Homo sapiens: one gene and its partners. The protein of the gene in region 3 purifies or fractionates together with the protein of the main gene of each other region. This does not show direct contact. Each region holds a gene or a part of one and is shown on either strand. Other genes may lie near its edges. The genes, in order: AP2B1, CSNK2A2, CHD8, NPM1, HNRNPUL1, KPNA6 and AP3B1.

Region 1 (4,032 bases), on a different chromosome or scaffold from region 3:
AAGTGACTCTAACGCACACCCAATGTTGAGAATCACTACTTTAATCAGTACTTTAATAAATCAGTGGGCTTTAAGGCCCTTGCTATTCAATCAAACAAGAATAATCTTGAAACCAAGAATGGTACACAATGGAGTCATTTCCAAAGGTACAATCTTGAATGACTGCTTAGGCTCCGCACTGTAAACTGTCAGGGACTGTAACCACTATTTTAAGGCCTGGTCTCCAGGCTCACCTATCTGCAAGAAGCCGGAACCAAAATAAAAAAGAAAGTAACAACCCTAATATTGTTTAAAAGAAACGGAAAAAAAACACTAAGTCCATGAAAAAGAGGTTGACTACTCCCATCTCAACTTTCCATCTACATCCTCCAGCTCATCTACCATACTGCCTCAAAAGACTTTCCTCCACCTTCAAGACTGTTCCTGTCGTTCCTTTCAACCAGATCTCATTTACCAGCATAGAAACAGTGGGGACAGTCTCCGCTTCCGGAGGTCGCTACTGCTGCCTCAGTGGCCCCGGAGCGGGGGCGCCCAGGGGTCCTTCGCCCCCGGCCACGGCCCCCACAACGGGGCTTCGCCGCCACCTGTGTCCGAGCTGGACCGTGCAGGCGCCAGGCTCCTCTCCGAAAGGCGCACGAGACAGCTTTCTTCTCCTGGTTCCACAATGGCCTCCTGGCATAGGGCATCGGGGTTATCTCCTTCATGCAGAGTGACATGGATCACGAAGCAGCATATGGCTTCTTCCTGCTGGGCGGCCTGTGTGCGGTGTGGGGCAGCGCCTGCGGGGCCTGGCAGCGCTGCGGGGGCCCATGCAGCTGACGCTAGGGGGCGCAGCTGCGGGCGCTGTACTCGCCACCAGCCCGCTCTGGGTGTGCGCCGCCGTGGGCTTCTACACCGGGCAGCTGGAGCTGGACGTGAAGCTGGTGCTCGAGGGCGACGGGGCGGCCTCCGCGGAAGGCCCTGATGAGGCAGGCTGGCCGCCACCCGAGTGAGCGACATGGCCGCCGGGCCTGGCAGGCGCGGGATGACGGCGCCCGAGGACTGGGACATTAAAACCTGACCTCCCCTCCTCCAAAAAAAAAAAAAAGAAAGAAATAGTGGGGACAAACACTACGTGATTTGCCTGAAACCATTATGTGGAAAGGATGAAATTAGTAAGACACAGAAGTAGAGCACTTTTTCGTTTCAATATCCATGGCCAATAAGGCAAAAAAATTGTTCCAAAATTTCTATTTAATCAACAGCTACAAAAGTAGCATAGCAAGAAAAGCTGGGCCCTTTAAAGAGTCATTCTTCATAGGACTCTTCACCATGTCCCATCCTGCCAAATCCAGCTCTTAGAGTTCCTCTCATTCACTTCCGGGAACAGTGAAGGACAAACGGCGGGGTTTCAGAAAGTCTGAATTGTGAACAGCAGCAGGTGTTATAGAATCAAAGCAGGATGTAACAGAAATTATTCCAATTCCAAAAGCATAAATTTAAAGAATATGTTTCAGTGGCAGTTCTGGTGGGTGTTGCAGGAAGTACAGGGAACACAATCTATCAATTTTTTTTAAGTATGATGTTTATTAGCAGTGATTCAATCTGCAGTCTCAAACTTTTACAAATGCCTGAATTAAAAAAAGGTCACCAGGACACTTTTCAAGAGTAGGTTTGAAGAATTAGGAGAGTTTTAAAATTATAACTATTTAATTGTAATTGTATCCCTTTATATAATTATAGACATTTTGTTCGTCAAAGCACACAAAATGCTAACAGAAGAAGAAATAAACATATTTCCAAAAGAAAATCAGAAAAAGCTGAGACTGAATGACAAGTGGCTAATGGCTTTTGTGAGGTGTAAGTAATAAAAATAAGGAGGAAAAAGTTGGGCAGGACCAAAGAGGGGTACTAAAAGAGGCAAAGTCATATATTCTACAACTTTATTAAATTCCTATATTTTCTCCCTCCTCCTCCCCCCAATCAAATCTACCAAGCACTGTTAGCAGCTAGCAGTAGTTCTCAATCATGGCTGCACATTAAAATAATCTGGGGAGCTTTCTTTTTAATTTTTTTCTTTTGAGACAGGGTCTCTCTCTGTTGCCTAGGCTGGGGTACAGCGGCACAATCACGACTCACTGCAGCCTCAACCTCCTGCACTCAAGTGATCCTCCCACCTCAGCCTCCCAAATAGCTGGGACTACAGGTGTGCACCACCGTACAGGGCTAATTTTTAAATTTTTTTTCATAGAGATAGGGTCTTACCATGTTGCCCAGGCTGGTCTCAAACTCCTGCACTCAAACAATCCTCCTGTCTCAGCCTCCCAATGTGCTGGGATTACAGGCATAAGCCACCATGCCTGGCCACCTGGAGAACCTTTAAAATCCTCACACCCAGACCATATCCAGGACAACTGAAATCAGGCTGAGGTTGAGACCCAGGCATCAGTATTATTTCAAAGTTCCCTGGCTGAGCAATTCTGATGTGTTGCCAAGACTGAAAGCTACAGACAACAAACTGACATAATTAAGCAACTCACTGCAACAAGAGAAAAAGAAGAATGGTAGTTGGCGCCATGTCTGGAATACTTTGGTAAATGTAAGGACTCCTGAACACAAAAGCACAGAATTCTGATCCTAAGCAACAAATAAAGCAAGCTAAGCTACAGGCACAATAAGCTGAGATGGGCTAAAATGTTTGTCTTTGATGGGAAGACCCTCCACATTTCTAGAAATGATCTATTTTATTTAGGAACAATTTTACAAAAGATGAAGGGTTGGACTTTCCCCAGAAGAATCCTTTGTTCCTAGACCCAAACTCATAGGTAAAAACAAGCATTATATTACTGATAACAAAGATGATGAGAGTAATAAGTGCAAAGTCCCTCAAGTAATTCCGTCTATGACCTAAAAACCATAGATGGCTCTAGAGATTCCGTTTTAAATATACATCTAGACGAAGAACATGGTAGATGTATATGGACGGATATGAAAATAACTCATTTCTATTCATTGTTTTGCAAGATTGCTTTTTCATTAAAGATAAAAAAATTTTAAATCATATGTATTAATATATGCACTCATATGCAGAGAAAAAGACTTGAGGATATACACCAAGTTCCCTTGGGAATAGGAACAGGAAGGGAGAACTTTCATTTTTACCTTTTACATACATATCTGTATTGCTTTAATTGTATTCTTTGTTATAAAATGTTTATTTCCAAGTAAAAATTATTTAATAAAAGGGAAAAAGTATGCTGCTTCTTTTGTCCTCCTCACACTTAACCAATCTCCAATGGATCATCTCAAACAGCAAAGAGGAGTCTCTTTCACTAAACAGAACCTTCAAGTCATAATAATGTGCATCACAGCCCTCTCTTTTAAAACCTACTCTTTAATAACTTGCTTGAATACATTCATCTATAGAAGTAGTAGATGTCCAGTGAGATTGTCAGCTACATGTATGTCTGAAGGAAGAGGTCAGCAGCATTCTGCCTGGGGCAATCTTACACTACAACTTTTGAAAATTTCAAAAGATTTGATTGTATTCTCATACTTACCTTTTTTATTGGTTGTGAAATACTTGGAGTCAGTCATGACTTTGGATCTTTAATGTGCACCTATAGCAAGAGAAAAGAATTCCTTCATTCAGGTTATAGATATCCAACAAGGCATCCAATTAATTTTAAGAACATCCAATTAATTTTAGGAACACTTATATTTAAGAATTTCTAAAAATGAGTATCATCTTCCTTTATCACCACCGTTGATGGTTCAAGAAAAACTAAGAATGTAACTCCTCAAGCTAATGGGGCAAAAATCTAAAGGCCAAATGCAACTGGGTAAAAGTATGAACCTATTATGGCTTTGTGATTTTATCCACAGTAACTCCTCAAAGCTTTCAAGAGCTAAAGCTGGACCTTTTTATAAATATATCTGCAATTACTTTCCATTCAGGAAAATCTGGTAACTTCCTTGCCTCAAGCTGGAATCACTCCAAAACATATATTCTGAAGCAGTGTAAGGTCAAAAGAAAAAACAATTTTGCCGATC
Region 2 (4,032 bases), on a different chromosome or scaffold from region 3:
AAAAAAAAAAAAAAAAAAAAAGAAAAAGCAACAAAAAAATAGCAACAAGATTTTATGGTTAGGGAAATCAACAAAGGTTATAGTGAGCTCCAAGTTATGCACTTAGCATGGAACTTTTGATGATAACCATGGACCAGTTCATGGCATTGCAAGGTTTCGTGATCCCTCCTGACATCAAAGAGGACTCTTGTGAAAGTGACTGCAGTTTGCTCCCAAATGAATCCACTTGGAGGAAAACTGCGGGGATGAGGTACATTTCCTGGAGAGCTCATGTCATTAAAAAATACATAAAACGTGGATTTGTAAAGAGCTTAAAAAAAAAATACTGTCACTGTTTTAATATCTCCTTTTTGTAAATGAGGCTGGTGTGTCAGTATAGACTGCTGACATTTCGCTAAGACTTGAGCCTGAATTTCACCAAAGGAAACCCAGACCACAATGGAATAGATAGGAAGTCAGACATTCAGAGCTTGTTGACTGAATGGGTTAATTCAACAGTGGTGCCCTGTTAAACAAAGGTAAATGTACAACAACTCCGAGTCTCTATCTCCCATGCATTCCAAAGGCAGAGCTCCTTCAGATCCTGAACTAGGTGCATCCCCATGCTGCCACAGTGACAGCTCCCTGGAGACTAGCACTGGGGAGTTTCTTTCTTGCTTTTTGACAGACTTTTAGGTCTTTACTCTTCTGTGCATTTAGAAGGAATGATAAGAATTTCTTTTTATCACACTGTAGTTTTCCTTCAAGGTTTGTGTTTGGTTGGTTGGTTTTATTGGCAAGCATCAATGCCGCATTACCCGTCGCTTTCCAGTCTTCATCGTGCTGCCGTGAGACCACTGGAAAGCACAGCATTGTCTGCACAAGGCTGGGACTGCTCCTTCACCACAGGGTCTGCAAGAAAGCAGGAGGAAAGTCAGGCAATCAGGGTGGTGAGTGCTGAGAGAAGCCCATGGCAAACCCACCCTTTCAACGGAAAGAGAGACAGACTGATGGGCAAGCCAGGGTCAGGGGGGCAACAGGAGAGACGGAAATCACGGAATTCCAGCCATATAAAAACCAAACACTGAAAAATGATCAGGGAAATTGTTATTGCAGTCAACTCTTACCCTTCCTCGGAGTACAGACTCAATGCTAAGAGGCATAGAAACTCTAATTTCCCACTGTTCAAATTTCTACATTTATTTTCTTTCAATATTAATATCATCTCTAACCCCTAATTTCTTCAAAGCATGTAGAATAACAAGCACTTCAAAGGAAAGGTGAGTAAAAAGAGCCATCAGAAGACCTATCCATTTTAAGCAACCGTAGTTTGAAATTTTTTAAATTGAAGTATGACATATATTCAGAAAAGCAGAAAGATCATTAATGACATGTCATAAACATCAGTATTCCTAATTTGATCTAACTCGGGTAAAAACAGCTTTCTGTGCCAGACACTGGGGCGGGGACATCTGAGTTTCCTGGGGCTGAGGTCTAGAAGGCTGAAGGCTTTTCCATTTGCGGTCTCCCTTATGCATATGGGCCACAGGCTCAAGACTACAGCGACACATTCTTCAGGCAAGAATTTAGTTCATCTCCAGAGGAAATCAAAGGAGAGGGAAAGACAGCATGTTTGTTAAGCCAGAGACAACGACTTTAAGGGGTGAACGTTTCCCTCTTGATTCAGAAAGCGACTGAGGTAAGTCTCTCAACCTCCCTGCTCCCCAGGAAGGAGACTGATAATAGGAGGAAGTTTATTTGAAACACACGTTATCAGAGGAAAGAACCATACACATGCAGAAGAATAAGCAAACACGCAAAGTGAATCCACACACACTTCTAAGTGAGCAGTTCAGTCAAGATTTCAGTGAGGCCTCTCCACACTTACTTCCCTTTCCTCAAATTCCTTTCGTCCATCCATCTGTTCATCTCCTTCTTTCAAAACATACAATAGTTATCTTACTACTTTTAACTAATTACTAGTTTTCTGAGGGGAGAAATAATCTTCAATTAGGTTTCCACACAAATATATGTATGTTTAAAAAGAAATTTTAGAAACTTGCGATCTATTAACTCAGGGTAACAGGGAGTAGTCAAACAGCTTGAACTCCGGGGAGATACATTCAGTGAATAAGCAAACACCTTTGGTGATCAAGAAACGGATCTGCAAAGTTGTCTCAATCATCTACGATAAATGAGGCCAAATTCTAGGAATAATCCAATCCAAATACCCTAGAATTCTCCTGACTGGTCTCAAAGACAAAGAGTGGAAGATTTGTTCTCTTGACTGAATTACTCCCTGAACACAGTCCCTGGAGACTCACAGAAGTATGGGTGCTCCATGGCCTCTTTGGCAGTCAGTCTCTGTTGATGGTCGTATCGCAGAAGTTTGTCCAGAAGATCTAGGGCCTCAGGGCTGACAAGGTGTCTGTTCTCACTATGGATAAAGTTTTCCCAGCGTTTCCGTGAATGTCTGAGAAGAAAAATGAAGCATTAGTAACCAGAGACTAAATTCAACAAGAATCCTTATCTACTAGGGCTAAAGCCAACAAAATCTCAGAATAATGTACTGATTACAAGCTTGTTAAATCTCTAACTGGTGCCTGCCCTACGGCCCCATAGTTACAGCATAGCATCCTGAAACACAATGGTGCTCTGTGATTAGAAAAATACAACTAGGTAAAACTTCTATATCTCATTTAGAATATGTGGAACCTTTCTAGATTATTTTTTATGCTGTAGACTTTTAGTCAATTCTGGGTGGCATGCAGAAGAGTGGGCAATTTTTATTGGTCAGCAGATATATTTCCCAGGGCTAGCCTCAGAAACAGGGAGGTTCCATAAAATACTGTTTGAAAACTGTTAACAAAATGTTTACTTCTCAACATTATTGCAATGTACCTGAAAACTCAATGTGCTTTAAAATTTGCTATTGTATAGAAAATCCATTACAGAGAACAAGAAGAAATTGTAAGTCCACCTTGAAGAGATATGAAGTAAATAAAATAAAATATAATAAAAAACAAACTAAGTCTCTTATTCAAAGAATCATTGCTCTCCAAGTTTGGCCATTAAAAATAAGCTTTTGCTGTACCAGAAAACTTTTTTCTATAACATTATGATTTTTGTTTTACCTTTTCTATTAATAGGTTATCTCTCAGAGAAGTAAAATGATTAAAAGACATAAAGTCCAAATATCTCAATAAGTTAAAAGAAAATATGCATAGGAAAAAAGAGGGCTACTTCCATTTTACTATAATCAGAATGGGAAAAGAAAGTGATTTTGGCTAACCTTTCCACTTCTGAAACGGGGTAAGGTAAAGCACTCTCTCTCTCTCTCTTACTTACTGTCCCAGGATATCGTTGAAGTGTGGATCTAGGTCTATGTGATACTTCTTCAGATACCCATACAGTTCTTCTGTACCCAGAACCTTGGCAATGCGAACAAGCTGAAACACAAAACAAACTGACCAAATCACTGAGCACAGAACACACCATGAGCCCGTGAGGACACTGCACCAAGGAATCAGAAGACTTCCACACCACTAAACCTCTAGGAACGAGATACAAACCCAGGTCCAGGGCAGGCAGACAGACCCAAGGACAAGAAGTTCACATGAATGCAAATTTCCAAACGGCCTTTAAAATAATACAACTTACGATAATAATCTTCTAGAGGTGGACCAGTACAGGGCATCACAATCTAATGACTAAAATCTAGTTTTATTAGACAAGGAGGTGCCTGACTTCTTCACAGATTCACTTTGGAAGTTTGGCATAGATGGCATTATCTGCCTCTACTTCTGCGGACCTGGTAAACACAAAATTCTGTGCGATCTTTATCTTGAAGAAAAGCTCATATGCAGACACTGAGTGATACTTAGTGGCTCAAGGATAGTATTCTTATCTAAGGATGCTATTTTTTTGGCATTCACCCCCAAATAAATAAGAACCAGAAAGCATTTGCTCACCTGGTCATAGTTGTCCTGTCCATGGAAGAATGGTTCCCTTCGAAAGATCATGCTTGCTAACATACAGCCCAAACTCCACATG
Region 3 (4,032 bases):
TTTTTGAGATGGAGTCTTGTTCCATCACCTGGAGTGCAGCAGTGCCATCTCGGCTCACTGCAACCTCCGCCTCCTGGGTTCAAGTGTTTCTCCTGCCTCAGCCTCCCAAGTAGCTGGGATTACAGGCATGCGCCACCACTCCTGGCTAATTTTTTTTGTATTTTTAGTACAGACGGGGTTTCACCTTATTTGCCATGCTGGTCTCGAACTGATGACCTTGTGATCCACCCACTGTGGCCTCCCAAAGGGCTGGGATTACAGGCATGAGCCACAGTGCCTGGCCTAGTATTTAATTTCGTGTTTACAGGAATGGCAGGCCAGGTGCAAAACTTTGGGTCAGTCTGGTATAGCATCCAATGGAATACAAATAATTATAAGAAATTGACAATGTACCATTCGTAATTGCTTGAATTTGAAACACTTTGATCAACACAGTTCCTTTTTCTTGACTTTTATTATGTAATTCTTCCTCCTACCCAACTATTTACTTTTTATTATTTCATTTGTATGGTTCACGCTTTTTTGTTTTTATTACTGTGTTCTTCTGAGCAGACAGGTGGCATAAACGATTTGCAATGAATAAATAACCCAATTTCCTTTGAGGGTCCTACACTAGGCAAACTGAGGGTGTGATCGTCAAAGAGAAATTTCTCAGTCATGATGGAATGGGGAGGTATTCATTAAGCCAACTGTTTCACATGCCCCTCAGATCTTCATGTGAGAAGTTTTGTTAAACTCACTGGCACCCAAACCAGGGCAACACTGCCCTACCTGGTGGCTCAGTATTAGCATGGCAACTCATCATTGGGACATGTTTTCAGGCAAAATAAGTACCTTTATGTGTCAGGTACCATTGGGAGATGATAAACCAGGGCTGAAAGCGCCTAAGGCTCTTCCACAGAAGCAACGTATGAGAGCTGCTGGCTGTTATCTTTCAAGAGACCAGTTATCCTCTCAGCTACTGTAGCTGTACAGAAGAGTGTTGTAAACCAAACCAAATAGAACATCAAATAAGCCATTTACAAGTGACATTCATTTTCACCCTCAGATGTATCTTATGGCAACATGTGGTTTATGCAGTTTATGGAGTCCTTTCTGCTGGTCCTATTTTTGCTAAGGATCTATCACTTTTGAGTATAATTACAATTAAGAATCCCATTGGGTTCAGTCAAGGCTAGAGTTATTTCACGGCACAAGTTAGAGTTTTAAAAGAACAAATACTAATGCTTACCCTTCTACTATGTCAGAGAAGTTATCCAACACTCGATGTTCTGCTGCAATTGCTTTGTCATCTGGTCGGCCAGCCTTTTCTAGGAAACATAAGGCTGGGTCTGCCCTCATGGTATTATATTTCTCATAGCCTAGAAGAAAAAGGGTCATAGTTGAAGAAAATGAGATTTGTTTTGCCTTTATGCTTACTTTATATGCTGCTGGAATAATTAGAATATGTTCTATATTGCTCATAATGGAAAACAAAGTTAGAATGTTATCTTGGACAACTACTGGGTTTATTACTATATTTAACATTTTTATAGCAATTTAGAATCATGAAGAGTTTTTAACTAGTGACTGATAGCCTTAGGCTCCCAAAGTGTTGGGATTCCAGGTGTAAGCCACCATGCCTTGCCTGCAGTTTTATTTATTTTTATTTATTTATTTATTTTTTGAGATGGAGTCTCACTCTGTCGCCCAGGCTGGAGTGCAGTGGTGCGATCTTGGCTCACTGCAAGCTCTGCCTTCCAGGTTCACGCCATTCTCCTGCCTCAGCCTCCTGAGTAGCTGGGACTACAGGTGCCCACCACCACGCCCAGCTAATTTTTTATATTTTTTAGTAGAGCCGGCGTTTCACCGTGTTAGCCAGGATAGTCTCAATCTCCTGATCTGCACACCTTGGCCACCCAAAGTGCTGGGATTACAGGCATAAGCCACCATGCCCAGCACCTGCAATTTTATTTATCCCATTAAACGTCTCAAAAAAGATGTAGATTAAGTGCCATTACTTTTATTTTATAGAAAAAAAAGTATTCTTTTAAAAAAAAGACATTCTAATTCACAAAGTCACTTGGCTGAAAGTTAACGCTTACTGTTTTTAGTGCCTGGGATTTGGCATTAGGCAAAACTGCTATAAGAGTAAGGAAATATTCTTACCCCCACTGCATTTTTGTTTTGGCTAGTCAGTCTCCCTTCTTATACTCTACTTTTATTTCACTCAAAAACTGCTGCCTCATACCTATATCAGAGAGACTGCTGAACATTTAGACAAATGGGACATGTAGAAAAACAGAAGATTTTCAGCTCTTTCTCTTTAGTGAGGCAGCCAAGCTGACATAGAGATGCAGATCTCTGTAAAGACCCTCACAGGCAAAACCATCACCCTTGAGGTCCAGCCGAGTGACACCAGTGAAAATGTCAAAGCCAAGATCCACGACAAGGAGGGCATCCCACCTGACCAGCAGCATCTGATATTTGTGAACAAACAGTTGGAGGATGGCCGTACTCTTTCAGACTGTAACATCCAGAAAGAGTCCACCCTGCAGGTGGTGCTTTGCCTCTGAGGTGACATTATTGAGCCTTCCCTCTGCCTACTCACCCAGAAATACAACTGCGACAAGATGATCTGCTGCAATTGTTATGCTAGTGCACATCCAGAGGAAAGTCATATAAATTAAGTGTGATTATTATTAACAATAGTTGGGGTATATTACCTGCCCTGATTCATGGGACCCTAACTTACCATAGCATACAGTGCGGTAACACACTGCTAACAGTGATTAGAGAACAGATGGGAGGCTCCCTACCTTGAGATTTACCTATCCATCTGGCCCTTCTTGAACATCTATTTATAGGAACTAACTGCTCTGCTCTGGATATTTAAGAACTACTTTCCTACTCAAATTTATTGAAGATCAATCAGATAACTGAGTTATTTCTCAGGAGCATTTTGCTAAATGTTCCATCCGTGAACATAAATCTTCAGTCGGAAAGGAGTAGAATAGGAGAAGATACGTACCATGTTTAAAGACTCCAATGAGCAGCGACTTGTCAGCCTCACTGTCCCACCAAGTTGTTGGAACCTCCAGTTGATCCACTACTGGGAACCATATGTCAATCTCACTAAAGGTATAAGAGGGCAGAGTCAGCACAGAAATGCAGGAAATTAAAGTGAGAATCCTTGCAAAGGTTATTATAGGTATCTTCCTGTATCCATTAATTTAAATACTCATGCATCTACCCTATTTCCTCCCACTAGTGTCAAGTATAAGATTAAAGACCTGATATATAGATTTAAATTATCAGGTATCCCAAAGATAGCATAAAATGAAATAAGCAAACCAATCTTCCCTCAAATAAGGTAGGGCATAAATCAAAAAAATATAGCAGAATTTTACCTGGCAATCGCACCCCCTAACACCTTTTCTGCTTGGTCTCCAATAACCTCCTGCCTCAGGTAGTATAGCATTCGTACCCGCAACAGTACCCTAGAAAGGACAGAGGAAGAGCTGGCTCAGTAACACTGTAGAAGTTTGAGGTGGAAAATGTCTGCTAATTCTATGCTTACTTGTTACACTGATGTTTCAAGTGCTTCTTATAACTTTCATCTTGGAACAAAGTGTCAGGGTTATATTTCCGGATCCAATCTGCCTTATGGATATCAAAAGTGCTTTGTGACTTTACTTTTTTTCCTTTGCGTCCACGAGGCACAGGGATAGATAGACCTGGGAAAGGGGAGACATCAAAGACTTGGATTGAGAAAAACCCTTGGACCTGAAAAGGATTAGATTAACCTATAGAAAAACATAAAGTAAAGAGTTGATAATTACCTGAATGATTCTGCAATTCTTTTGTCTTGCCATTTTCAGCTGGGCTAATCAAGTCCCAGATGAAGCCTTTAATATTTTCATCCCCACGGTAGTGTAGAAGACAGTACACGAGAATGGCCCGACAAATGGTCTCCACATCTCGTTCAGTCATACGTCGCTTGAAGCGTCCATGAGATAAAATATCTCGCCATCGTCCCCAACTAAAAAACAG
Region 4 (4,032 bases), on a different chromosome or scaffold from region 3:
GGATAGCTTGTGCCCAGAGATTCAAGTCCAGTCTGAGTAGCATGGTAAAACACCATCTCAAGAAAAAAAGTGGCCGGGCACGGTGGCTCATGCCTGTAATCCCAGCACTTTGGGAGGATGAGGTGACCAGATCGCCCGAGGTTAGGAGTTTGAGAATAGCCTAGCCAACGTGGTGAAACCCCATGTCTATTAAAAATACAAAAATTTGGCTGGGCGCAGTGGTTCACATCTGCAATCCCAGCACTTTGGGAGACCGAGGCAGGTAGATCACGAGGTTAGGAGTTCAAGACCAGCCGGACCAACATACTGAAACCCTGTCTCTACTAAATACAAAAATTAGCAGGGCATGGTGCCCCGAGCCTGCAGTCCCAGCTACCCGGGAGGCTGAGGCAGGACAATCGCTTGAACCCAGGAGGCAGAGGTTGTGGTGAGCCGAGATGGCGCCACCGCACTCCAGCCTGAGCAACTGGAGACTCCATCTCAAAAAAAAAAAAAAAAAAAAAGAAAACAAAAACAGCAACAGTCAAATACTACCTTTAAGTTTGCGTTCATTTATAAGTTTGACATGCAAGTACTTTGAATTTTTATTTTTCTTTTGAGATTGGGTCTTGCTATTTTGACCGGGCTGGCCTCAAGAGATCCTCTCATCTTGGCTGGGTGTTAGGATTACGGGTGTGAACCACTGCGCCTGGTCATACTTTGAATTTTTAAGCTTTCGGCTCTTTCGGCCTTTTTCCTGTTTTCTGCCTTCATCGTCATGCTCAAAGATTTTGAAGAACCACCAGCTTAAAACCTAAACTCCCAATTTGATCTTTCATGCAGGTTCTCTTTTAAAGTGCATGTTCTTATATTTGTTTTCAATAAATGCATATGGACCAACCTCAGAACTGAAGGACAAAGCTGAGAGCCAAATCAAAGTATTCAATGCATTACTGGTACTGGCACACATAAGACCAATTATAAACAGTACTTTATACCAGTGTGCGTATTAACTGTTTGTAACAATAGTTTGATCTAGTTTAATATAAAGTCATCAAATATTGTTTCCAACCATATTTTAAATCCCAAGAAAATCTTAATATCCCTTTTAGAATCTTATTTTTGTCAATAAATATCTACATAAAACCATAAGACAAAATCCTTTTAGGGAATAACAAACCTTGAGTAACAACTTGTAAAATGAATATAGAGCTATTTAATCATATTTTCTTTCAACCCAATCTCATTAACTGCTCACCATAAAACATACCAGGCTTGATGGGTATAACACATCCACTAAATCTTCAGAACAAAGGGACATAATCAAACTTCACAAACACTATAGTCTACCCTTCTGAAGAGTCACAAGTCACAGCATTGTAAAGGCTCACAGACCCAATATCCTTTCAACTCAGCTCATTTAACTTAAACTGACAACAGATGACCACCTGCCCTTTTATTATAAACTATTACATAGGATGGCTTTTTGTAAATGACTTTTATAAAACCCTCATGCATATAACTATGTCAAATTCCTTTTTTTGTCAAGATTCCGGAAGTATATCAAGTTTCTAAAATCATACTTACTCTTCATCATCATCCTCTTCATCATCATCGTCATCATCTTCATCAGCAGCAAGTTTTACTTTTTTCTTTTAAAAGAAAAGATACGTACTCATGAACAAGAGCTGTTCTATCACCAAACTAAAAGCTATAATACAAAACCTATAATAAAATTGCCATCTCTACCTGTGGAACCTTGCTACCACCTCCAGGGGCAGACCGCTTTCCAGATATACTTAAGAGTTTCACATCCTCCTCCTCTTCATCTTCTGACTCTGCATCTTCCTCCACAGCTAAAATACAATTTATTAGACATTATAAAACTCAAGCAGCAAGAAGTCAGAAAAAAAAAGAACACTGATAGTAAATACTCTAAAAACTGAGACTTCTATTCTATTTAAAAAAAAAAAAAAAAAGAGCACATGGGAAAAGGAACTTTTTAACAAAAGTATTTTGAGGCCTAATGTTCACTGCCAGGTTTTAAATGCAAGAAGCCTGGGGAGGGTGGCTCATGCCTGTAATCTCACTTTGGGGAGGCCAAGGCGGACCACTTGAGGCCAAGAGTCCAATCTGGGCAACATACTGAGACCCCATCTGCACATATACAAAAAAAATTAGCCAGGCGTGGAGTGTGCCTGTAGTTCTAGCTATTCCAGAGGCTGAGGTGAACCCAGTAGCAGTTCGAGGATATAGCAAGCTATGATCACATCACTGCACTCCAGCCGTTATAATGAGACTGTCTTTATTAAAAAATAATTTTTAGGCCAGGCACAGTGGCTGACACGTGTAATACTAGCACTTTGAGAGGCCAGGGCGTGCAGATCACGTTAAGGCCAGGAGTTCAAGATCGGCCTGGCCAACATCACGAAACCCCTTCTCTACTATAACTATGAAACGCAACTGGACTTGGTGGTGCACGTCTGTGGCCCCAGCTACTGGGGAGGCTGAGACAGGAGGATCGCTTGAATCCCGGAGAGGTTCCAGTGAGCCAAGATCGTGCCACTGTACTCTAGCCTGGGTGACAGCAAGATTTCCTCTCCCCCCCGCCCCAAAAATTTATTTGTCCTCTCCAATTTCTAGACTCACATTGGAACCTATTAAAAAGACAGTAGTACTATACCCATGCTTTAAGTCCAAACTGGGAACCAAGCAACTGCACTAAAGAGGACAAACTAAGTAGTATAATATATAAAAATAACATACCTACTAAGTGCTGTCCACTAATATGCACTGGCCCTGAACCACACTTCAACCTTAAGACCACTGGTGGTGTTATTTCAAAGCCCCCAAGGGAAACCTAGAAGGGAGAAATTTTTCATCACTAAACATGTGAAGAAAATGAACAATAAACATTACAGGCAAACACATAAGCCAAATCAACAAACCAGTGAACCTGTTTTTCCACCTCTGATAAAAGTAGCAGCAGAAGCCCCCATGTTCAAGAGTTGACCATCGAACTCCAGTGACAGAAGATAAAGAACCACTTTCTATCTCCTTGGCACAACTAAATGACACCAAACCTACCTTAAAACAGAATTAAACCTTGACACAACATCCAAAGTATGTAAGTGCCCTTACCGTTGGCTGTACAGACATTTTCAAAGTTGCCAGTGTTACTTTAATTGGACTGCCTTCGTAATTCATTGCCTCTGCTTCAACAATGTGCAACTCATCCTTTGCACCAGCCCCTAAACTGACCTGTGAACAAAAAAAAAATACTACTTCAACTTTTGAGTTCCACCTATTTTACACCCCCCCACTAAATGTTATATGCAGCCATGCGTCACTTAACCACAGGGCTAGGTTCTGAGAAATGTGTTGTTAGACAATTTCATCTTTGTACAATCATAAGAATGTGCTTATACAAACCTAGATGGTATAGCCTACTACACACACCTAGGCTACAAACCTGTACAGTGTTACTGTACTGAATACTGTAAGCAACCGAAACACAGTATTTGTGCATCTAAGCATAGGAAAGGGCCGGGCTTGGTGGCTCATGCCTGTAATCCCAACACTTAGGGAGGCTGAGGCGGGCAGATCATGAGGTCAGGAGTTTGAGACCAGCCTGGACAACATGGTAACAACCTCGTCTCTACTAAAAACACAAAAATTAGCCAGGTGTGGTGGCACATGCCTGTAATCCCAGCTACTCGGGAGGGTGAGGCAGGGAATTACTTGAACTCGGAAATCAGAGGTTGCAGTGAGCCGAGATTACACCACTGCACTCCAGCCTGGGTGACAGAGCGAGACTGCCTCCAAAGAAAAAAAAAAACAGGAAAGGTATATTAAAAATAAGGTATAATAATCTTATGGGACCACCATTGTATATGCGATCCATCTGTTGACCCAGCAGTTGCAATGAGGCACATGACTGTGATTTTTTTAAAAAACAAGTATAAACCTCTCACTATTACCCTGGAAAACAAATTTGTGCAATGTTGTCCTCAGGTTTTGTGATCTTGGCAAATCAGTTTCTCATATTCAGAA
Region 5 (4,032 bases), on a different chromosome or scaffold from region 3:
TCAGGGTTTTCCAGATTGCTCCTATATCCACTGAGGAGTCTCCCTGAAAATCCTCTGAGGTTAGTACAGCAGATTTACTCCTTCCTGAAGGGAAGCTCAGAGAAGTAGAATGACTTGCCCAGGGTCCCACTGCTAGAGTTGGGAGTAGGTCTTTTGCCTCCAAACCAGTACTCTTGCTCCAGAGCTAAGCCGTGTCTCACATGTGGACTAACAATGTCTTTGGACGGTGCCCAGCAGGGATTCTGGTGAAGGTCAAGACCACAATTTCCCCATACTGACTGTAAGGCAGAATTAGATGCACACTCCAAAGACTTACAGGTGTCAATAGCAACAAGGGTATCATCAAAGTCATCTTCATCCTCTTCAGCAGGAGGCTGAGGAGAGCGGCCCCTGTATTAGAAACAGGGGTTAAGTCATACAAGAACAATGGATGAGCACAAAGGAAAGAAAATGAATGTTCTGCTGTAATCTATGAGTGGCCTCCAGACTGCTTCCTGAATCTCCATTTCCTTCCACAGAGGTGGGCAAAAGAACTCTGAAACCCTACATCCTTGCAAGGAGAGCAATGACCGTCAACTCCTACGGTGGAGACAGGGATTGAAGAAGGCATGCTCTGCTGAAGGGGGGCATCAGAATCATTTAGGGAATTTTTTCACTCTTTTTTTACACCCAAAGATTCTGATCCATACCCTCTGCATGTTGACAACCACTTCCACACTGATCTCTGTTACTGTTTGGAGGCTGTGGTATCCCAAAAGGGTGCTGGCCAGGAAGGGGAATGTGCAAGAGCCTATATAAATCCCAATAATTACTATCTATCCATGTACCAGGCTTCTTAAAATCCTACATCTGTAAGAATTTGAGATGACCCATTTTTTTCAGTGTCCTAAATTATAAACGATATTCATTTTCCTACCAAAACGCTAAAAAAGGGACTTAACACTGTTGGTTTCTGCTGTACAGGAACGAGGAAGAAGGGTAGAAAGGTAGAATCTAACACTCAGGGTCCTGCCTGGACAGTCTGGGTGGTCGCAGTGCACTGCATGCACAGATGGGGAGCCCATGCCCATTTGGCTGCTGACTCTCCCAGCAGCAGGCTTCCCTCTGGTGGAGGGCCCCTCTGGCCTCGCCAGGCCAGGGCTAACATGGATGAGCTGTGCTCATCACATGTTAAGTCCATTCTAGGAAACTTTCCCTGCCAGCCCAGGATCAGAGCGAGTGTTCTTCCTTTGCTCTCCATCAGTAAGTAGCTTCCAGGCTTCTGCTCTGTGGGAGGCAGTGGAAGAACCCCATATGAGGTGGGATCCATGTCCTAACTTAAATCATAGCCTGTGAGATCCAGGCCCTGTCTCAGACAGTAACAAGCTAGTTAGAAGGTGGACTCCGCCAGATAGGAAATAGAATGTCAGATGACTAGTCCAGATGAGTACAGTGGCCATTCCTAGTTTTCATAATTGCAAAAGGCTTCAGACAGGAACTGAAGGAAGGAAGGAGGGAAGGGAAGGACTTGGTCTGGAGGGAAAGGAGGGAAGGGCTTGTTAGGGAAGGGAAATGACCAAAGCAGAGGCTGCTCCCTCTTCTGAACTCCTGAAACTCACCTGCATCCTGACTACTCACCTCAGAGGTTGTGGCTTACTAGTGTATGTGTCTGAGTCCCCACACTGGAACAACAGAAGGCAAAACCCACTGTCCATCTGTATGTTGCTAGTGTCCAGCCCAAGAGTGGGCACTTCGTGACAGCACTGTGAGAACTGACTGAATGAGTGGATGAATGGGAAGAGGATGTGTATTTGGGAGTAGTGTTAGGAAACAGATATTTCTTTCATTACGGGTATCAAGCAGCTGACTGCAGGGGCAGTAAGGCAAAGGACAGAACAGGCAGGCTGGCATCTCACGCGTGAAAGTCTAAGATATTTAGAAGTTACCCTGCAGGTAAGAAGGGAGGAACTGGGGGAAGGACCAAAAGTTTAGGAAAGCTGAATCTGGTAGCAAGTACGGGAAGGGACAGGAAGAGTGTGAAAGCAGAGGGAATCTTTACTCAGCCCCTCTAGGTTAGTGCAAATGTCCCCAGCAAGCACGAGGCTATGGATATAGAAACCTACCAGAGCAAGGGTGACTGCTGCCTCATACACCCACCTCCTATCCTCTCGGTGCTCAAAGTACCCCCGTCCCCGGTTTTCTTCATAAGGCCTCTTTCGACTCTGGAATTGCTGCCTGTCTGGCTTGAGTTGAGAAGCTTCAGGCGGGAGGAAGCTGGTGGGTGCTCCTTGCTTCATCTCTGTCTTCATTTCTATTGTCAAGACAAATTCAGATGGTCAAGACACTCGCAAGCTCCCCAGCTATCACTTTTCTGGTCCCTTTTCCCTTGAGAGATGTGAGCAGGATCCTCACTACAGTGATGAAGGGCTGGGCACAGGCAGCTTGCTGAGTTCAACAGAAGCCTGCTGAGCCAGCCAAGAAGGCCATACTGGAGAACAGGGTTAGGATCTGAGATACCATGACCCTAAATTCTCCAATTTCTCTTCCCAAAGAACCTCTCTGCCTTAGTTCTTACAAAGCTTCTTCAGTCTGGCAAGGGAGGGGGAGAGGATGAATTCAACAGGGTACTGTGGTCCTGCAGCTAACTCTACGGGCTTTAGTTACCCTACCAAAAGAGGCCAGAATCACTCCGGTTAAGCCATCCCATAGGTGCAATAACCTCTTTAAGTCATACCATTAACAGAAAGTCAGGATGGGATACCGTGCTGTGGACCACGGGTAAGTCCTAGTCTCAGGCAGACTCCAGGAATCAGTGCCTAACCAAGAGCAAACCACAGATGTAGGCTACCTTCATTTCTCCCACAGCATTAATCCCTGATGCTGAAGCTCATTCACATCTACTCATTTCTGCATTCAACCCCAGACCATTTTGGATCACTCCCCAGCTTCGGCATGTGGACCACATCTCTCAGAAAAGTCTCCTGGTTCTCTAGGGCTGGGATGGTGCTCAGCCATCCTGAAGAGAGCTTCCCTGGTTCCCAGCAATAGGTTGGGCTCACACAGGGCTCCTGATGAATGTCTGTGGATAACGGCACAGAAAATATTCTCCTGTGGCTGAATGATCCTACAAGTCTCACAGAGCCTGACACAAATCTGCGGTTTAACCTACATTCAGTAAAGTTCTGAGCCACCCACAAGAAATGTCTGGGGATTTAACTTTGTGGATGAACCAGAATGGCGTTAGACAAAATCAACCAGATACACTAAGAAAAGGCACTGGGAGGCCACAACACAGTAAAAGCAGCACAAAACTGGGGGTCAGTCCGGGCTCCATCAGTTCTCAATAGTGGGACCCTGCTTTCCAAATAGTAAGGCACAAATGATAAGGAATGCTGCTTATTAACCAAGAGGACTAGCCTGGGAGCAAGTATGCTAGGTTGTAGCCCCAGCTCTGCCATCGGACAAGCCAACTCCTCAATCTATAAAATGGGGAGGAGAGGCCAGGCGCAGTGGCTTACACCTGTAATCCCAGCACTCTGGGAGGCCGAGGCAGGCAGATCATGAGGTCAGGAGATTGAGACCATCCTGGCCAACATGGTGAAACCCCACATCTACTAAAAACACACAAAAAATTAGCTGGGTGTGGTGGCACGCCCGTAGTCCCAACTACTTAGGAGGCTGAGGCAGGAGAATCACTTGAACCTGGGAGGCAGAGGTTGCAGTGAGCCAAGATCACACCATTGTACTCCAGCCTGGGCAACAGAGCGAGACTCCATCTCAAAAAAAAAAAAAAAAAAAAGGGAAGGGAGAGTTGGCATCATGGGGAACTTTGTTCTGTAAAGACATATACTTAACATGATTGGGAAATCCTAAGTTTAAACGATACAACACAAGGTTTTTTGTCTATTTTTTTATTAAAAAAAATATTTTCAGCAACACCAGCCCAAGAAGACACAAGGTTTTTAAATTTAATTAAAAAAAAAATTTTTTTGGAGACAGAGGCTTACTGTTGCCCAGGCTGGAATGCAGTGCTGCCATCATGGCTCATGGAGC
Region 6 (4,032 bases), on a different chromosome or scaffold from region 3:
CTCCCTCCTCTGTAGGCACAATGATTACAAAGTGGCTTCTCCTGCCCTGAGAGCCGTGGGTAACATCGTCACTGGGGATGACATCCAGACCCAGGTAAGAAAGAGGAGGGTGCAGGATCTTAGACCAGCTATGGAAGAGCTTGTGGAGAGCTGCCAGTGGACAAAAGCCTTTCCTGCAAAGGGCTGTGGTCCTGATGGGAGGCACTATGGTCTAAGGAAGTAAGTGTGGGCTTGAGTGAAAAGTTCCAGCTCTGTTATTCTCTAAACAGTCATGGGAAACTTGGTTCCTTCTTTTCTTACATAAATTGGGAACAAATCATCGTCTAATGGGTGAAGGAAAACTAAGTGGAATAACTGGACTTACCACCTGGGACATTGTGAGTTAGTTAAGTTTGAGTCATGGTCCCTTTGAGATACTGAAAGCTATGGAACTCCACCCCTGCTTCCTAGATCTTTAAGGTCTCATGGATATCATGGACCTTGGAATAATCTTTTGTAAATAACCCTTCTGGTGAAGGCATAGTAAACAAAGTTCCCCTGCTCAAAGGCTAGAGATTTGGGTATTCTTTGGGTTTTGAGTAGCGAGCATAATTCTGTGGGATTCTGGACAGGTTTCTTAACAGGTGAGTAGTGTCACTCAAACACTCAAACCCACATGCTCATTTTCTGGGTTACTTTGTATATGTATATGCATGTACTTTAAAATACAACATAAAATTTACCATTTTAACCATTGGCATAAAGTACATTCACATTGTTTTTCCGTTATTGCCACTAGCCAGCTACAGAAATTTTTTATCATCTCAAACTGAAACCGTACACATTAAACAGTAACTCCCCATTCTCCCTTCCCCTAGTGCCTAGTAACCACCATTCTATTTTCTGTATCTGTGAGTTTGAGTGCTCTAAGTACCTCATGTAAGTGGAATCATACAGTGTTTATTCTTTCTCGTCTGGTTTATTTCACTTAGCCTAGTATCTTTAAAATTCGTTCATGTTGTAGCATGCATCAGAACTCCTTTGAAAGGCTGAATGATATTCCACTGTATGTATATACCATATTTTATTTATCCATCAATAGACATTTGGGTTGTTTCCACCTTTTGGCTATTGTGAATAATGCTGCTATGAACATTGGTGTACAAATATTTGTTCAAGTCCCCGGTATATACCCAGAGTGGAATTGCTGGATCATGTTCTAATTTTATGCCTAATTTTTTTGAGGGGACACCATACTGTTCTGCACAGCTGCTATGCCATCTTACATTCCCACCAACAATGCAGCATGTTCCAGTTTCCCCACAGCCTTGCCAACAGTTGTTATTTTCCGTTTTTTGTTTTTTGTTTTTTTTTTGATAATACCCACCCTAATGGGTGTGAAGTGATATTTCATTGTGGTTTTGATTTGCATTTTTCTAATGATTGGTAATGTTGAGCATCTTTTCATATGCTTATTGGCCATCTGTGTATTTTTTTTTTTTTTTTGGACACATGTCTATTCAAGTCTTTTGCTCATGTTTTAATTGGGTTGTTGAGTTTTCTGGTTGTTCAATTTTAGGAGTTCTTCATATGTTCTGGATATTAATCTCTTATCAGACACATGTTTTGCAAATATTTTCTCTTGTTCTGTGGTTTTATCTTTTAACTTTGGTGTCTTTAAAAAAAAAACTTTTAACTTATTTAATTTTTTAAAATTGAGACAGAGTCTGTCTTTGTCACCCAGGCTAGAGTGCAATGATGCCATCTCGGCTCACTGCAACCTCTGCCTCCTGAGCTCAAAGCAGTCCTTCCACCTCAGCCTCCCAAGTAGCTGGGACTACAGGCATGCACCATCATGCCTAGCTAATTTTTTGAATTTGTTTTTTTTTGGAGAGACAGGGTTTTACCATGTTGCCCAGGCTACTCTTGAACTACTGGGCTTAAGCAATCCTCCCACCTTGGCTTCTCAAAGTGCTGGGATTACAGGCATGAAGCCACCTCACCCAGACCAACTTTCTTTTCTTTTTTAATTTTTTTTAGAGGGTCTCACTATGTTGCCCCAGCTGGCCTTGAACTCCTGTGCTGAGGTGATCCTACTGCCTCAGCCTCCTGAGTAGCTGGGACTGCAGGTGCATACCACTGTGCCCAGCTTACTCCAATGTCTTGATGCACAACAGTTTTTCATTTTGATTAAGTCCAGTTTACCTGGGCCAGGTGCAGTGGCTCATGCCTGTAATTCCAGCACTTTGGGAGGCTGAGGCAGGAGGATCACTTGAGCCCAGAAGTTTGAGACCAGCCCTGCAACATGGGAAGACCCTGTCTCTACAAAAAAAAAAAATGTTTTTTAATTAGCAGAGTGCGGTGGCACCCTGCTACTCAGGAGTCCCCAGCTACTCAGGAGGCTGAAGTAGAAGGATTGCTTGAGACTGGGAGGTCAAGGCTGCAGTAAGCCATGATCATGCCACTGCACTCCAGCCTAGGCAACAAAGTGAGACCCTATTTAAAGAAAAAAAATGAAGCCGGGCACAGTGGCTCACACCTGTAATCCCAACACTTTGGGAGGCCGAGGCAGGCAGATCACCTGAGGTCAGGAGCATGAGACCAGCCTGGCCAACATGATGAAACCCCATCTCTACTAAAAATAGAAAAATTTTCCGGGCGTGGTGGTAGGCGTCTGTAATCCAAGCGTCTTGGGAGGCTGAGGCTGGAGAATCACTTGAACCTGGGAGGCGGAGGTTGCAGTGAGCCGAGATTGTGCCATTGCACTCCAGCCTGGGCGTCAGAGCGAGACTCTGTCTCAAAAAAAAAAACAAAAACAACAACAACAACAACAACAACAAAAAAACATAAAAAAAATTAAAAACAGTTTAATTTTTCTTTTGTTTCCTGTGCTTTTGGTGTTCTAGGTCATTCTTAACTGTTCAGCCCTACCTTGCCTTCTCCACTTGTTGAGCAGTCCCAAGGAGTCAATCCGGAAGGAAGCTTGCTGGACTATTTCAAATATTACTGCTGGCAACAGGGCTCAAATACAGGTAAAACAGGCAGGGAAGTCAAGGGGCATGGGAAGTCATAGGAACTTGGGAGGTTGTTGGAATATTTGCTTTCAGAAGAAAGAATTTGTTTCCCTTTAAAAATAGGAGTCAATTGGCCAGGCACGGTGGCTCACGCCTGTAGTCCCAGCACTTTGGGAGGCCGAGGTGGGCAGATCATGAGGTCAGGAGTTTGAGACCATCCTGGCCAACATGGTGAAACCCCATCTGTACTAAAAATACAAAAATTAGATGGGTGTGGTGGCGGACGCCTGTAATCTCAGCTATTCGGGAGGCTGAGGCAGGAGAATTGCTTGAACCCGAGAGGCAAAGGTTGCAGTGAGCTGAGATCACGCCACTGCACTCCAGCCTGGGCAACAGAGCGAGACTCCGTCTCAAAAAAAAAAAAAAAAAAAGAGGGGCTGGGCATGGTGGCTCATGCTTGTAATCCCAGCACTTTGGGAGGCTGAGGTGGGCGGATCACAAGGTCAGGAGATCAAGACCATCCTGGCTAACGTGGTGAAACCATGTCTCTTCTAAAAATACAAAAAAAAAGAAAAATTAGCCGGGCGTGGTGGCAGGCGCCTGTAGTCACAGCTAGTCGGGAGGCTGAGGCAGGAGAATGGCGTGAACCTGGTAGGTGGAGCTTGCAGTGAGCCGAGATCGCGCCACTGCACTCCAGCCTGGGTGACAGAGCAAGACTGTCTCAGAAAATAAATAAATAAATAAATAAATTGGAGTCAGTGTGTACTATTGGTCAAAGAAGCTGTGTAACCAAAACTGGGTTCTTCTGTAGTAGCCTGTCACCTATATAGGAAGAACAAAAGAAAACTCCCAGAATGGGGAAGATGTCTAAGTCTCAGCTGATTTGGGGACTAGATTTATTTATCATGCTGAAATGACTTTCTCCTTCCATCTGCCTCCTCTCAATTCTCTCTCAGGCTGTTATAGATGCAAATATCTTCCCTGTGTTGATCGAAATCCTTCAGAAAGCAGAGTTTCGTACAAGGAAAGAGGCAGCCTG
Region 7 (4,032 bases), on a different chromosome or scaffold from region 3:
GCTACACAGGGCTACTGCCTACTGTATTAGATAGCTGCCATGCATAGATAGTACATACTCCCTGATGATAGCATCCTAAGATGAGCTGGAATCCTTTTCCTCAGTAGTTTTGAGAAATATAAAGTGGGTACAAAAGCCCCATCTAAGATACTAGTACACTAGTAACTCACATCCCCCATAGGTCACCTCTATTCCTTGATCTTACCATGTTAACCACTTAGCCACAGGTTAAAGATTTTTTTCTCAACTTGCCTTTTTTCAGATTCTGATGAAGAAACACATAACGATCTAAAACTCCAAATGCAGTCTTTCTCATTACATGAAAATTTTTGTTCTTTAAAAATAGTCCTGTGTGCCATTAATATTTATACCATTTTGAAATCAATAAATACAACTATATAAAATATATAATGGTAAATGATACTATGTAAATAAAGTACATTTTTATGTCAAAGACGTAAAAAGACATTACTTACTGTGCTTTTATCTTTCAGAAGTTTTTCAATTACTTCAATTAACATTTCCTTCTGCTCTGGATCAAGGCTAAAAAATACAAAAATAACATATTAATTTTTCCCTTTAATTCTAGCTTTACATGATGCTCACCAATTCAAGGATGTTGAGAAATTTTTAAAGAGGGAAAGGAGAGCAAGAATTATAAGTTAGAAATAAAGAAAAACAAATAAAATGGGATGGTTTTTCTCATGAATGTGTCCTCATCTTTCCCTCTAATATTGTTCATATTAACTAAACCAGATATCAATGGTTTAGTTAAGATAGTACTGAAAGAACAAGTTCACTTCTAAAAGAGTTGGAAAACTTCAAGAAAGCGACTGTAAGTAGATAAACCACAAACTCTTTTCAACTGGGAGGAAAAAAATAACTAGATAGCAGTCATTATTTTACTATGCATACATACTTCCCAAAAACAAATATGGAGAATTTCCAAATAAGAATTTTATATCATACTAGTTCACTGATAGAGACATGCATTATAAAATCTGCCAACTAAAACTAGGAAAAATAAGAGGTAGTAATAAGCTTAAAACATTTGAGATAGAATACTAACAGACTATAAGCTCAAGGCAAGGAGAGGCAAGCATTGAGGCTGGAATATACTGGTGCCCAATGATAGAAGGACTTTTAAGCCGTTAGAGTGAGCATGGATCTTATCCCATAAGTTTCTAAGGAGAAAAGGTGAGTGAGAAGCATGATAAAACCTTGTCTGGCAGTTAACATAGGAATATGAGGTTTCACTTTCTACAAACATACACATTTATTACTAAACATTATAATTATCTGGACAAACTTTTTAATTCTTTCAAATTTCAGCTTAAGTCTTCCTTCTCAAAGCAGTATTTCACTACCAATCCCATCTCATTACATCTTTACTTTCCGGTAACAAAATATGATCATCTCTGGTCCCTGTCCTATCAAAGACATTGCTAGTGTACCTTTGTATATACATATATATCAAGTGCTAATATCTTATTCATTATAGATTGCCTTTAATTATTTGGTATGTCTTTGATCTTCTTCCTCAAATACATGATATGCTATTCATAATTAAGTGCCACATCCTCTACTGTTTTCATACATCTAAATACACATAGCACAATACTGTGAATACAACACCAGAAACAGAAGAGAGTCTCAAAAAGCTTGAGGAATAAATGATAGCTGAAAATAATACCAAATTGTTGTAGACAATTCTATTTGGACAGTAAATTTTCCACAGAGATCAGGGCATTGTATAATATTGCATAACATTTCTAAAATATCACACAGATATGGTATAGCACACTATATTTCAAATCACTACACTTTTTAAAATTACTTAATAAAATAGCTCTGGAAAAGAATTAGACAACGAAGGGAGCAGCAGGAACAAAGATGGAAGAAAGGAAAACACATATAAGTGAGTTGAGAGGATCAGACACTTAAGATTCTACCCTAAACAGGAAAAAAAAATCTCAATTTTCTAATAATACAAGCATATGTGTACATGAGATAGACTATATAAATGAGAATTCAAATTCTGATTATTCTTAAGTTATAAAATCTATAAATTATCACAGGCTCTAACAGCCTCACAAATAAAAACCTGCATAGGGTCTCTATAGCCAAAACGAAATTAAAGATGTGTAAGGAACATTTGCAGCAGGGGGAAATACCATCATACAGTCACTGGATTTACTTAGTGTAAGAGCAGCCTACCTAAAAGAGCGAATAAAACAAGCCTCTGTGGTCTATAACATTCCATGTAACATCAGAGATCTTTGGTATATTGTTAACAATGCACCTACCTGTATAATTTTTGTATTGCATGGGCTGCATTCTTCCTAACATATGGTGATAAGTCAGCAGAAGCTTCCTTAATAGCAAGCATCATGATAGGTACAATAATTGGCACTCTAATACTTGACAGAACTCTCAAAGCGCTTGCACGAATTAGTTGGTTTGGGTCCTAAAAATAGTGCAAAAATATTCACCAAAATTTCAACTTTACAATATTTTAAACATATCTTTCAGACACAGTTAATAGGTGCTTAAAGGGTGTAATATGACAATAGCAAAAGAAAGCTACTTAATTTAAAATGAACAATTAGTATATAGGAATGGGAAAAAAAGACAGACATAAATGTTTACTTCTTTAATAATGTTTTAAAGAAAAGTAATAGTTATAATTCTAGTTGGTCATTTATTACTAAATATGCTGGGTTTTTATACTTTCATAATAATAAAATGCTGCAGGTCATCAATTTCATGTTTAAAAATGTCTTATAACCCCTTTTGCGTACTTTCAACAACTAGTATAATGATAAACAGCTCTTTGAAGCATGAAAATAATTATATTGAATATAAACAAACATACAGAAGCTGTAACATATACAGCAAGGTTTCAGTTGGTTGTATAAATTATTTTCTAAGTGTACTGAGTAGGCACTATAGGAGGCTTTTAACTCTTTCAAGACACTACTGTGCTATTTAGTGGATTATCGCTCCACTTCTTTAACTGACACACTTTCAACTCTGCAGAAACCTTGTAGCTATTTGCCTACTCACTCCATTATTTACCTTCAGAGCTCGCTGAAAAGTGCTTATGGACAGGAGTGCAAGATCCTGCTGTTCTTCAGCATATCGAACCAGGTAAACATATACCAACTTCTTGATCTGTTAAAAAAAAATCATTTATTCATAACCAGAGTGAAAATTTAAAACTCAGTATTTGCTATACCAAAATCCATGCTCAATTCTTCTCAAGTAAATAACTGAATCTGGTCACATGTTAGATTGTAAAATAAAAATAATATTTTGTGGGATAATAAGTACAACAGGAAAAGCTTTTAAAGTAAGCATTTTAATAGTCCAGTTCACAATAGCAATAGCCTATCAAAGTGTCCCTTCCTCTTGAAGGGAATAAAAAATCCCTGAGCAGATCTCATATAAGAATATTAACTAAATTGTAAAAATATTTTCAAAATGAGGGATAAAAATAAAAGAAAGAAGCCAGGCATGGCGTACATGCTTGTAGTCCCAGCTACACAGGAGGCTGAGGCAGGAGGATCACTTGAGCCCAGGAGTTAGAGGCTATCCTGGGCAACACAGAGAGACCCTACCTCTTTAAAAAATAATAAGAGAAAGAATTTGGGCCCAGGCCACTAACTATATGTTATGGGAACTTGTTTCCTCATCTGTTAAAAGAGTCCAGAGCCCTAACTCTGATTTTTATGGTAATACTCACATTTCAACACGCATTACATGATATTTTCAGTCCAGTAAGAATAATGTGTGACTATGAATACCAATTTAACGTAATAAAAATTCAAGAAGATTGGATGTGTGTTCTGGAAACAGTTTTTTTTGGTTTTCGATTTTTTTTCTGAGACACAGTCTTGCTTTGTCGCACAGGGTGCAGTGCAATAGCACAATCACGGCTCACTGCAGCCTCAACCTCCTGGCCTCATGCCATCCTCCCACCTCAGCCTCTCCAGTGGCTGGAACTACAGGTATGCACCACCACACCCGGCT

What was found.
Region 1: the proteins of CHD8 (region 3) and AP2B1 purify together in Homo sapiens (affinity purification with mass spectrometry, with the first as the bait; 2 studies listed by BioGRID). This does not show direct contact.
Region 2: the proteins of CHD8 (region 3) and CSNK2A2 purify together in Homo sapiens (affinity purification with mass spectrometry, with the first as the bait; 2 studies listed by BioGRID). This does not show direct contact.
Region 4: the proteins of CHD8 (region 3) and NPM1 purify together in Homo sapiens (affinity purification with mass spectrometry; 2 studies listed by BioGRID and IntAct, with this or other methods). This does not show direct contact.
Region 5: the proteins of CHD8 (region 3) and HNRNPUL1 purify together in Homo sapiens (affinity purification with mass spectrometry; 2 studies listed by BioGRID and IntAct, with this or other methods). This does not show direct contact.
Region 6: the proteins of CHD8 (region 3) and KPNA6 purify together in Homo sapiens (affinity purification with mass spectrometry; 4 studies listed by BioGRID and IntAct, with this or other methods). This does not show direct contact.
Region 7: the proteins of CHD8 (region 3) and AP3B1 purify together in Homo sapiens (affinity purification with mass spectrometry; 2 studies listed by BioGRID and IntAct, with this or other methods). This does not show direct contact.

What each region holds. Positions count from the first base shown.
Region 1 is NC_000017.11:35,593,575-35,597,606, reverse strand, and holds part of AP2B1 (AP-2 complex subunit beta), read right to left. Parts: intron 3,600-4,032; 5' UTR 3,577-3,599; coding exon 3,540-3,576; intron 1,075-3,539; exon of another isoform or gene 477-1,074; intron 1-476. UniProt on the Homo sapiens protein: Component of the adaptor protein complex 2 (AP-2). Adaptor protein complexes function in protein transport via transport vesicles in different membrane traffic pathways.
Region 2 is NC_000016.10:58,163,257-58,167,288, forward strand, and holds part of CSNK2A2 (casein kinase II subunit alpha'), read right to left. Parts: coding exon 3,951-4,032; intron 3,429-3,950; coding exon 3,328-3,428; intron 2,453-3,327; coding exon 2,304-2,452; intron 892-2,303; coding exon 815-891; 3' UTR 798-814; exon of another isoform or gene 1-797.
Region 3 is NC_000014.9:21,396,592-21,400,623, forward strand, and holds part of CHD8 (chromodomain-helicase-DNA-binding protein 8), read right to left. Parts: intron 4,022-4,032; coding exon 3,822-4,021; intron 3,717-3,821; coding exon 3,560-3,716; intron 3,480-3,559; coding exon 3,390-3,479; intron 3,115-3,389; coding exon 3,011-3,114; intron 1,362-3,010; coding exon 1,232-1,361; intron 811-1,231; exon of another isoform or gene 702-810; intron 1-701. UniProt on the Homo sapiens protein: ATP-dependent chromatin-remodeling factor, it slides nucleosomes along DNA; nucleosome sliding requires ATP. Acts as a transcription repressor by remodeling chromatin structure and recruiting histone H1 to target genes.
Region 4 is NC_000005.10:171,390,513-171,394,544, reverse strand, and holds part of NPM1 (nucleophosmin), read right to left. Parts: intron 3,241-4,032; coding exon 3,121-3,240; intron 2,840-3,120; coding exon 2,746-2,839; intron 1,836-2,745; coding exon 1,729-1,835; intron 1,632-1,728; coding exon 1,567-1,631; intron 1-1,566. UniProt on the Homo sapiens protein: Involved in diverse cellular processes such as ribosome biogenesis, centrosome duplication, protein chaperoning, histone assembly, cell proliferation, and regulation of tumor suppressors p53/TP53 and ARF.
Region 5 is NC_000019.10:41,270,340-41,274,371, reverse strand, and holds part of HNRNPUL1 (heterogeneous nuclear ribonucleoprotein U-like protein 1), read right to left. Parts: intron 2,291-4,032; coding exon 2,137-2,290; intron 391-2,136; coding exon 317-390; intron 1-316.
Region 6 is NC_000001.11:32,163,220-32,167,251, forward strand, and holds part of KPNA6 (importin subunit alpha-7), read left to right. Parts: intron 1-15; coding exon 16-94; intron 95-2,885; coding exon 2,886-3,011; intron 3,012-3,949; coding exon 3,950-4,032. UniProt on the Homo sapiens protein: Functions in nuclear protein import as an adapter protein for nuclear receptor KPNB1. Binds specifically and directly to substrates containing either a simple or bipartite NLS motif.
Region 7 is NC_000005.10:78,225,066-78,229,097, forward strand, and holds part of AP3B1 (AP-3 complex subunit beta-1), read right to left. Parts: intron 3,175-4,032; coding exon 3,079-3,174; intron 2,468-3,078; coding exon 2,307-2,467; intron 544-2,306; coding exon 477-543; intron 1-476. UniProt on the Homo sapiens protein: Subunit of non-clathrin- and clathrin-associated adaptor protein complex 3 (AP-3) that plays a role in protein sorting in the late-Golgi/trans-Golgi network (TGN) and/or endosomes.